3 linked regions of the Homo sapiens genome follow. The protein of the gene in region 3 interacts with the protein of the main gene of each other region in a pairwise test. Each region holds a gene or a part of one and is shown on either strand. Other genes may lie near its edges.

Region 1 (3,752 bases), about 15 Mb from region 3:
GCTGGTCTCAAACTCCAGACCTCAGGTGATCCACCTGCCACGGCCTCCCAAAGTGGTGGGATTACAGGCATGAGCCACCACGCCCAGCCGACATGTCATTTCCATTGTATTAGGTATAAGTAATCTAGAAATGATTTAAAGTATGTATAGGTTATATGCAAATATTACACCATTTTATCTCAGGGGCTTGAGCACCCACAGATTTTGGGGTCCTGGAACCAGTTCCGTGAAGATACCAAGGGACACCTATAACACGTCACACATCAGGTCATGGTGACGTCAGGCTTTGATGGCCCCAGAGCGTATTGGACCTGGGTTCATATCACTAGTGGCACGATGGGCAGTGCCTGGGAATGGTGCAACAGGTACAACAGAAACAGGGTACAGGGACTGCCTGAAAATCGCACTTGGGTCCTAATCCTAGAATTGCCAACTGTGAGGGCCTGAGAAGTTGCTCTCTGTCTGTGCCTCAGTTACCCCACGAGTCTAGGTGTGGATACCACTGCGGGGGGAGGGGCAGGAAATCTCACCCACCCAGTCACTCACATCCTCTCTGCTCCACCTGGCTTTCCTCAAGTGCCCCTCCCCTAACTCAGCATCCCCAAGAGGCCACCTCCTGGACAGATAAGGATGAAGTTCACTGGTCCTGGACAGTGGACCCTCTCCTCAGCCCCACAGCTCCCAGGCAAAGCACCTGCAGCTGGCACCGCCTGCTTCCTGGGTGTTCTCAGCAGGCTGTCCGCTGCCATGGCTTGCTGGGAAGGGGAGTCTGTCTGCACAGGAGTGTTCGGCTCCCTGGTGAATTACCTGTGCATGTGGCCCCTCCTGTTTACCCTAAATTGAGGGAGTATAGTGTATGCTTCTACTGAATACAAGCACTCGCATACAGAAACAGGGATGAGGAGGCGAGTCGCAGTCTCTCATGCCACCCTACACCGCCAAAACAGCCAGAGGGGACAGCAGCCTCTTCAAGACCCTAGCTCCGTTATCTTCCACTAGGTGGCACCCCCCAACTCCGAGTGCCAAGGGGAGAGGAAATTCCCAAAAGGGGAGCCAACCTAGCTGCAAATGAGCAGGAAAAAGTGGCTGGGAGAGGCGGAAGCTAGCTCGTCCCACCCGCAACAAGAGGAAGTAAGGAGGAGCCAGACCAGGTTCAGTCACCACTCCCAAGTCCCTACTACCTTCGAGAAGCCAAGGTCTCAGGTCTCGTTCCCAGGCCCTCGGAGCTCCCAGCCCAGGGTCGCGCGCCCCTCCGGCTCCAGGCCGCCGCGGGAACCACCCACCACCACCAGGAGAGGGGAAGAAGCCAGCACCTACCGACAGGGGTGGAGCTGGGTCAAGAATGGTGTGGTCCCTGCTTTGGGGGAATGCTGGGGAGGTAGAAAGCCCCTTCTAACGGGGCGTCACTGCAATTACTGCTTCCTCTTTCCCATAAAACTCCCCCTAGTGTATCAGAACCCCCAAGGAGTTTCAGTAAGCGGTTCTTCTGTTGTCTCCGGCTGAGACTCCAGGGGAACCTCAAGCTCACATGGCCCTGGCGGGCCCCTGGGCAGGAGCAGGCGAGAGGTCTGCGCGGCCGCTCTCCTACCTGCGTCCGACTCCGCGGTCCTTGGGCAGCAGCAACCGGGTAGCGCTCAGACTACAGACCCCAGCGCGATGACCCGCCTACCTCAGTTTCCATTGGCCAGGGATCAGGGCTACCCGCTCCCATTGGCTACTTATCAATATAGAGGTGGGGCCAGCCTGGAATGCTGTGTTTCTTTTCTACTCAAATCACTCTCCTCCCTGCTTCCTCTCGCCCCACACCCCATTTCTAGGGATCATGTGATTGGAGAATCATGTGACGTCGGGACAGCCTCAGCAGGGCAGCTGGTGCTCGTCGCCTTCCTTAACCCATCCTGCAGGCGCCTGGGGGAGTTTGCTAGAGATGATAGCGCGTGTCTGGGGCATTGACAGTGCGAGGGAGTGTTATGAATTGGGAATATTTGTGCTCGCCTTTCTATCCTTTTGTTTGTTTGTTCTGAGACGGAGTCTCACTCTGTCGCCAGGCTGGAGTGCAGTGGCACGATCTCGGCTCACTGCAACCTCTGCCTCCCGGGTTCAAGCGATTCTCCTGCCTCAGCCTCCCGAGTAGCTGGGACTACAGGCGCGCACCACCACGCCCAGCTAATTTTTGTATTTTTAGTAGAGACGGGGTTTCACCATGTTGGCCAGGATGGTCTCGATTTCTTGACCTCGTGATCCGCCCACCTCGGCCTCCCAAAGTGCTAAGATTACAGGCATGAGCCACCGCGCCCGGACTTGTGTGTTTGTTTTAGAGACAGGGTCTCGCTCAGTCGCCCAAGCTGATCATAGCTCACTGCGGCCTGCAACTCCTGCTCCCAAAGCGATTCTCCTACCGCAGCCCCCCAAGGCGCTGGGATTACAAATGTGAGCTACTGAGCTGGCTCGCTCCTATCCTATCCTGCCCTGTCTTGTCCTGTCCTGTCCTGCCCTATTCTGCCCTATTCTCCAAACTCGGTTGACATGCTAGGCAGGCCCCAGAGTGAGTTGAAGGATGGTTTCCAGGACAAAGATAAACAGCCCCAAAGCCCTTTCCTCAAGGTGCTCAGCAGGACAGGGAGCAGGGATTGGTGGGAGACAGTCTCAGGCTGAATCTAATTTAAGATACAAGGTTGTGCGCCAGTTGCCAGGTGTAGGGAGAGGAAGTAGATTGTCTCCAGGTGGGGAAGAAGAGATTTCATTCCACCTTAGGAGCATCTCCTTGAGCTGAGTCTGGGAAGATTTTAACTGGCAGGTGGAGGAGGAGGTGTTGGGAAGAGCCCTGGGAAACCAGATGGGAAGGGCAGGCTTGGCAGGGATTGAATGCCATGTTCAATGCCAGTGGGCTTCAGGAGCTGCTGGGTGCCTGGCACGGGCTGGGCTGTGGTGGGGGCTGTCGAAAGAGAAGTGGCTTCCTAGTCTCCAGATCGGCCCTGCCTTCGAGGAATTGATATGGGAGGGTGAGGAGAGAAAATGTACCACAGAACAGATTAGCCAGTGACAAGAGTCAGCCTGCTTGGTGCCAAAGGGCCTGGGCCAGGCAGAGATGGATGATGGGAGATGGGCCAGGAGAGAGGAGAGGCCCAGGGAAAGCCTGATACTGGGCCGTGGAGGAACGGCAGTGTCTGCACAGGGGATGGAGACTGCTGCAGCCTGAGCAAGGAACTGGAGCTGAGGATGAGGCAGGGGCAGGGGGATGGCTAACCAAGCTCGAGGCAGCAGAAGTCGGAGGAGGGAAAGGGTGCCAACCGAGCTGTGGAGTCGTGTGGCAGGGGTTCTAAGCCTGGAGCTAGAGCAGACCCAGACAGCGGATAAGACACCTGGCCTGCTGAGGACCTAGTACTAGTCTGTGCCCTGGTGACACATTTGTGCTTATTTTCCTTCCTGTGTATCTTGAGACTAGGGAGTATAGTTTATGCTTCTATTGAAACACACACACACATGAAACTTTCATGAAATGTTAGGTGAATCGATCAATAACCTACTAATTACAACCACCCAGAACCAGAAAAAAATACAGGTAGAAGAAAAAAAACCTAAACAGACTGAAACAAATATCACAAAGTCTAATCGTCAAAGCCGTGATTCTTGAGCAGCGGCAATTTTGCCGGCCAGGGACATTTAGGAGTGTCTGGAGACAATCTGGGTTGTCACAACTCAGGGTGGAGGGACACTGGCATCTGGTAGGTAAGGGCCAGCAATCCCACTAA
Region 2 (3,752 bases), on a different chromosome or scaffold from region 3:
TATTGAAGCAGAAATACATTTTTGCTTCTTTTGTCATCTTTAATCCCCAACATGACAAAATAAAATATTTTGACTTGTTGACTTGCATACTCATCTTTGCCAACAAATGTAACTCGTGGCCTTCAATGCCTTCTTCCTCTTTCTTTTCACTTTTGTAGCCATTAACCAAACTTATTCCTTCAGTAAGAAACTTAATCCTTGGAACCTTGCTTTCTTTGGTTCTATTCCACAAAGGATCAAAAGCATAATTTTCCTCAAACACTACAATAATTATTTTCTTCCTTTACTTATGAACAGTTGGTAACTTTCTATGGCCGGTTATGTCACTTTTTATCCTAAGAGTTAATATTCTCCCTTCCTCTGACTCTTTCTCTTTTAGCAATCTTATTTTCTCCTGCTCTTCGGCAGTCTCTGCTACTTCCAAGCCATCTGGTTGTTATTGGCACATGGGATTTGCTTTTAACTTCTTTCCTGCCCATGCAGATGTCACCTTTGAATTACTGGGAGCCCACTGTTTCCTGAGTCAGTCCATTTCATCTTTGGATAAGTCCATTAAGGAGTTTTTCTCTTTGTTACATAAACCATATAAATCAACTATATAATTTTTACATTTATCTTTGTGTGTGTTACGCAAAGACCTAAGGAGGTCTTTTTCTTAGTTGTTTTGCATATGTGTGCTATGTCTACATATGTGGTGCTTTGTTTAACCTGCAGGCAAGGATCTTTGCATCAGGCACTTCTGCATTTCCATACCATGATCCATCCTCCTACAACTCCAGACCCACAACAGTATAAGCTCTAACTTTTGGCATAGTACATGTTTAATGGATGTTTGATGTGTAGGATACCTTCTAAATGCAGAACTATTTATATGTAAAAGTATATATATTTATACTTATGAAAGGATAATAAAATCTTTAGGAAATGATTCTGTGAATTTTAATTGTAAAGCTAGAATACAAGTCTGATCATGTGCATACTCACTGCCCCCACACAGTAAAATGCCTAAACATTTCCAATTGTTTAACTAAGAAAACATTACATGTTGTATATGTATCTATAATTGGTTAACAGAGAAGATGTTACATGTTATATATCTATCTAAACCTAAGTGGCTTGGTTTTCTCTATGTGTAATGTGCTATTATTTTCTATATCATAGATTTAGTTCTACCTGTGAAATTTCATATAATGCAGAAAAAATATTGATAGTTTTGCCTGTATTTTTCAATGTGAATATGAAAAAATACCTTGGCATTGTTAATCCAAAAATACATTTATAGTTTTCAAATAGTCTATCTAGCAGAACACTTATTAGTATCTCTAAATTATTAACATCGCTGAATATTCTTGCATTTTAAACTATTTCAAAAATTATTTCCATAACAATTTTAATTGAATCTCCTGTGATGCTATTTTGGTAATTGTAATCAGCAGTATCTTACAATTAGATTTTAATCAAAACCTTTAATGCTATAATGTGTAATCTGAGAGAAGACAGTTATATATCTATGTGGGCTTCTTCTCCTGACCTCCCTCTACTCCATCCAAGAGATGCTATAACCAATGTGAAAACAGATCATGGAGAGCAGAGGTTGCTTTCCATTTGTCCCAAGTAATGTGGAAAATATCCAGGGGTAGCAAGATAGGGTCATGATCAGTTAAAGTCTGGTATAAAGATAAACCTGGTGATGGACTTCTCACTAAGGCTCTTTACTTCCTGTGTGATCAATAAACACTGACTGACTTATAGGACAGTTGCTTAGGGTTAGGAGTGCACCTCCTGGTTATGCAGGAGATTGAAACTGGGGGCACAACTGGCTTGGGGTAAGGGGGGTGTGGCACAGGTGTGGGGGAAGAGTGGGGAGGGCTCGCCTACAGCCCACATTACTCTATTGTGCTGCTTTGCAGGTTCTGAATTATCAGCAGTGAATTATTCTTTTTCAGCTTTTATTATTACTAGATTTCTTTAAAGCCCACTTTTATGTCTGCCCATTAATCATTTATGTAATTTTAGAAGGCAATAATGCATGAGGCACAGAGCTAATTATGCATTCTATTATGTCGTTAGATATCTGGATGAAAGTCATGTTCCAAGACTCAATCCCTTCCCTAAAACTCATTTCCACAAGTGAAGATTTAATGATCTATTTATTTTAAAGGTTTGCCTTTGGGGACAAAGATTATCCTGGTTAGCTCCACTTGAAAGAATAGACTTTTATTTCATGGAATCTGTAAGCGTTTAGAAAAATCACTGTGGACTTTGAAAATATATTTAATACAAAACGTGTTGAAACCCATGCTTTGGCTATCCCTAGGTAGAAATGATCCTCTTTATACCTATGCAGATTATGAGAGCCATAATGTCCTCAGTTCTCATATTCCATTGAGTAAACACAGAACTAGCAAGCTGTGGAAGCAGTGTGTATGAGGGCAAATTGTAGCTTTGTTTTTTAATTCTACAGTCAGTATGTGTGAAAAAAAGGATGATTTTTAAATGATAACAATTCTTAAATGTGATAATTGCTAATGAATTTACTCTGATCAGTTTTGTTCTTTTACCATTCATAGCTAATTTATCACATTACATATAACCAGGAATGCAAACACTAGCCTCATGTATACCTCTCAGTTTGATCTCTTAGTTTTTCTTTTACTCTTCAGGTATGAAAAACCTCATTCTTCAGTAATTACATCCACAGCTCCTAGGTATATGTCATATATTTGATTATGAAGAGATATTTTCCTCTGCTTCTAACAGCAGAGTGCAGTATTTTGCAAGGAGAGTTGTCTTTGTGATTTAGCATATATTCATTTCTGTTCTACTGTGCTTTTTGTGTGCTTAGAATATAGTTCGATCAAAATGTGTGCAAAAACTTTTCCACTCTAAACTACATGAATATTTTCTAAAACTTAAGTCAAAAATAAGACCGCAACTGAGTTCTGGCTTTAGTGACAACGAAGGCAAAATGGATTTTAGGTGGGCAAGGACTGTCTCCTAGATGTCAGTGTCCATTCCGGAGCCACATTTTTGGCAGAAGATTTCCTTGTTCTGGGTCAGGAAGCCTTTACCCACCAAGGAGACAGAGCATTTCCCGCAGTTAAAGCATTCGCTATGCCACTGGCTGTCTTGAAAGCAGATAAACTTGGCACCTGTGAGACCTGTAAAGGAATTGGAGAAAAAGATTAATCTATCCTTTCAAGGAACAGATTGAGCATTCTAGCAGATGCTCCTCTAGGAACTGGAGATAGAGCTATGAGCAAAACAACGCAGAGGCAAATAACCCAAAAAAGAATGCTGCTTCCTGGCCCTGTGTCCATCTGGAACTATCCACTGTAGGAAAGTTACACCTATGCCACCCAACCAGATTCACAGCCAAATTCTGCCATAATCAACAGAAGAAGGCAGAATGCTAATATGCAAGTCAGGTATTTTTGGAAACAGATAAGGTTGTCTAAGCCAGATAAGACAATACAGTGTAGCATAGTGGAAAGAAGGTATAGGTTGTGAAGTCAGAGATATCTAAGTATGAATACATTTCCCCTTTTTCTCTATATGACTTTAAGTTTTCTTAGCTGCAAAATGAAGATAAAAGGAAATAAATGTATGCTTCCTAGTTTGATGTCCAATGTTGTAATGAGTTTTAGTTTTCTTCTTTCCCCTCATTTTTCTGTGCTTAGTTGTACTTAGAATATGTCCTGGGGTTATACGGTTTGGGACACTATTTCTAGAAAGCATAACCAAATAGAGGA
Region 3 (3,752 bases):
TGCCTCTAGGAGCGCCGCGGCCGCCGCCCGCGGCCTCCTTCCCTCTCAGCTCCGCTTCGAGGCCGGCTCCCCGCCCCGACTGCCCGCGCCTCCCGCCGCACCCGGGAGCGGGAAACGCGGCCGCTGGCGCGCGGGGCCCTGCGCAGGCCGCTCCCCTCGTGGCCGCTTCCCTCCCCCACCCCAACCGCCCCCGCCCCTCACCCCAGGGACCCGCCCGGGGCCGCGCGCCGCCACCGGGTTACACAACCCCGGCCGGCGACGGGGGGGGGGGCGGCCGCGGTGCGGGGGGCGCCGGCGCCCCCGCAGTGCAGGGGGCGAGGCTGCGGCCGGTGGTGATCCCGGGTCACCCGGCTCCGCCGCCCCGTGTGGCCCTCGACACCCTTCCCCCTCCGCTCCTCAGTGGGCCGGAGTCGGTGACAGGAATCGGCTTCCAACATGGCGGACAGGAAGCGGCCCCGCGAGGAGGAGAGAACATTCCAGCCGCGCCGGCTCTGGGGGGAGCGGGCGCGGGGCGCCGGCCTCGGGAGGAGCCGCGGGACAAGACTGCGGGGTCCGGCGCCCAAAAAGGGCGTTTAGTGGTGGAAATGACCCGTGAGATGAGGGGTCCCAACAGCCCCCCCCACCGAGACGGGGAGCCCCAAGGCCACAGGTGGGCTTGGGGTGGCGGGTGAGGGGCACTTCCTCAACTCACCCTACCTACCCACTCCTCGCCGCCTGCAAAAGGGTCTCGCGACACCATCCGAGTCGGGATTCGCTAGGCCTTCCTGAGTTACACCTCGAGGGATTTTTTGGGGGGGTAGGTTTACCCCATCTCAGGGCCCCCAAATTGAGGTAACTCCAGGGACGCAGGGAGGTGAATGGGAAAAGAATAATGAGGTTGGACTTGCAAGGCCGACCCAGCAGGTCTCCCTTCAGCCGGGGCCGGGGCCAGGAAGGTCACGCTGGCCTGGCTGGGCCTCTCCCATGCTGGAGGGAAGGAGAGGGCGCTGCAAACCCCATTGCTCAGCCCGAGCTCTAGAATGAAAGGGGCATCCCCAGAGCCGGAGGGGACACACACACACACACCCCGACCCCGTCCGCGCTTTTCGGATCCAGCCCCACCCCCATCTCTCCTGTCCTCCACCCCCAACCCCCTTCCCCCACCCGTCCTCCCTCCCAGACCTGTTTTCTTCTTCGGCGTTTCCTGGTGCTGCTGGAGGGTGTGTTTCTGCTCATGTTTCAGCGGCTTTGGCTGGGCCTTGGGGCTGCCCTCGGCTCCATGCTGCAGGTATTGGTGAGGCTGCTGGTGATGATGGTGGTGGTGGTGGTTGTGGCTGTGGTTGTAGAAATAATAATGGTGGTGGTGGTGCGGCTGCTGCTGCTGCTGCTGAGGGTGATGGTGCGGATGGTGGTGGCTGTGATGGTGCTGAGGCTGTGGCTGGCCGGGCTTCTCCTCCATTGAAAGCGGCTGGGACTCCCTGGCTGAGGCTGCGGGCTGCTGCACCGTCAGGATCTGAGACTGCTTCTCAGGGCTCACTCAGTATATCTGAGCGCGTCTCGCCAGCGCACTGGTTAACCGAGCGATTCTGCGAGATTGGCAGCCGCACTCCAACAATCAGGAGCCACGCTGTGCCGCAAGCCCCGCCCCCAGCTCAAATCCTCTTTCCTTCCCCTTCGCCGCTGCCGCCTGGCCAACGCCACTTACCCTGTGCAACCTCACAGGGCCGGGCCTTCAACGTCAGCACTATGGCTCTCTCTTCTGTCGCTTTCTCTCCTTCACCACGCAGTCTGTGAACAGCACTTTCTACACTCCTCGCCGGCAAGCAGGCTCGTGTCGAGGGTAGCAGATTCCACTGGCGATTCCACTGGTGCTGTGAGCCATCTGCTGGCTTTGCACCTCTTAGAATCTGGTGTTTTTTTGTTTTTTGTTTTGTTTTGTTTTTAATCCTTTTCCGGGTAACCAGAAAGGGAAGCTCAATTCCCTTAACCCCGAGACCACTAAAGGGGCAATACAAAAAGAGGAAATAAATACATTTTTAAGCATACAAGAGCTTCACAATCCAGTAGATCATTTTGTATTCTGGATTCATTTTGCTTTGTATTCATATGCTAATCTCTTCCTTTCCACGAAGGGATTATAGGGTTCCACAATGGGGTATCTGTGTAATTTTCTAAAAGGGCACAAAGGGTTTAAATCATTGTTTCTTTGTAGTTGGAGGCAAGGGAGAGCAGGAGGAATGAAAATTTACACTGAAGGTTTTTTTTTTTTTAATTAAACTCTGCAGGTGAGGTCAACTGTGGAACCAAAATAGGTTTTAGAATGAGAAGTTTCAAGAGCAAAGGAAGGGGAGAAAGAGCACTTAAAAGTTATTAAGTGGGTTTGTTTTTTTTTTTTTTGGCACTTATGGAAAAATTGAAATTAAAAGAAATATTCTGTAGCGTTTTGTAGTGTAGATTTAACTTATCCTGCATTACCACATCACAGTATATGATTTTCAAAAGCAAATGTTAGAGCCATGATAGTGGTTACTCAGGAAGGAAGAGGGTTGTGATGGGGAGGGACACAGGTTACTCTGATAATATTTCATTTTGGGGGCTAGGTGGTGATTACATATATTTGCTTAGTAATTATTTGTTAAACTGAATATACAGATAAAATGCACTTTTCCCAATGTATGTTATAGATTGGGGGATTTTTTTAATTGTAAAATATTCATAATATAAAATTTACCATCTTAATATTAAGTGTATGGTTCAGGTGCATTAGGTACATTCGTATTGTTGTAGAACCATGACCATCATCTATCTCCAGAACTTTTTCATCATTCCAAACTGAAACTTCATACCCAATAAAAATAAATGTCCTTTCCCTCCTCCTTCCATCCCTTGATAACCACTGTTCTGTTTTCTGTCTCTACGAACTTGACTATTCTAGGTACCTCATATAAGTGGGATTGTACTGTATTTGTCTTTTTGTGACTAGCTTTTTTGCATAATGTCTTCAGAGTAGCATACATCAGAATTTCCCTCTTTTTTAAGGCTGACTAATATTCCATTATATGTATATACCACATTTTGTTCATTCACTCAGCAACGGACATATGGACTGTTTCCTCAATGTATGTTACGTTTTTGAATTTTTAAAATGTGGCTTGAATTCCTACAACAGGACAACATTAAAGGAACAAGAAGCTTGAAAGCAAAAAGTTTATGCTATGAAATTAATGAATGTCAATGCAAAAGCTTATTTAAAACGTAAAAGCTGGTTTCCAATAACAAATGTCATTGAATCCTGAAAACCATGACCAAATTTTGGCATGTTCTATACAGTAAGGATTTGTGTTGCCTTGTTAAATTTTATTTTATTTTATTTTGAGATGGAGTTTTGTCCTTGTTGCCCAGGCTGGAGTGCAATGGCATGATCTCAGCCCACCGCAACCTCTGCCTCCTGGGTTCAAGCAATTCTCCTGCCTCAGCCTCCTGAGTAGCTGGGATTACAGGCATGCGCCACTGTGCCAGGCTAATTTTGTATTTTTAATAGAGATGGGGTTTCTCCATGTTGGCCAGGCTGGTCTCGAACTCCTGATCTCAGGTGATCTGCCCACCTCAGCCTTCCAAAGTGCTGGGATTCATGAGCCACCAGGCCCAGCCAGCTTTGCTAAATTTTAAAGAAAAACCTCTTTGGGGGTACATTTACCCAATTTTGAGAATGAAAACCCTAATAATAATATCATATCACAATAAGTCTTTACCACTGAATAATATTCTGCCAC

The links.
Region 1: the proteins of NUFIP2 (region 3) and GRN interact in binary tests that used the Homo sapiens proteins (3 or more experiments, as listed by UniProt).
Region 2: the proteins of NUFIP2 (region 3) and FHL5 interact in binary tests that used the Homo sapiens proteins (3 or more experiments, as listed by UniProt).

What each region holds. Positions count from the first base shown.
Region 1 is NC_000017.11:44,343,171-44,346,922, reverse strand, and holds the start of GRN (progranulin precursor), read right to left. Parts: upstream 1,622-3,752; 5' UTR 1,589-1,621; intron 1-1,588. UniProt on the Homo sapiens protein: Secreted protein that acts as a key regulator of lysosomal function and as a growth factor involved in inflammation, wound healing and cell proliferation. Regulates protein trafficking to lysosomes, and also the activity of lysosomal enzymes.
Region 2 is NC_000006.12:96,615,018-96,618,769, reverse strand, and holds the end of FHL5 (four and a half LIM domains protein 5), read right to left. Parts: intron 3,162-3,752; coding exon 2,998-3,161; 3' UTR 144-2,997; downstream 1-143. UniProt on the Homo sapiens protein: May be involved in the regulation of spermatogenesis. Stimulates CREM transcriptional activity in a phosphorylation-independent manner.
Region 3 is NC_000017.11:29,292,622-29,296,373, forward strand, and holds the start of NUFIP2 (FMR1-interacting protein NUFIP2), read right to left. Parts: upstream 1,528-3,752; 5' UTR 1,439-1,527; coding exon 1,162-1,438; intron 1-1,161. UniProt on the Homo sapiens protein: Binds RNA.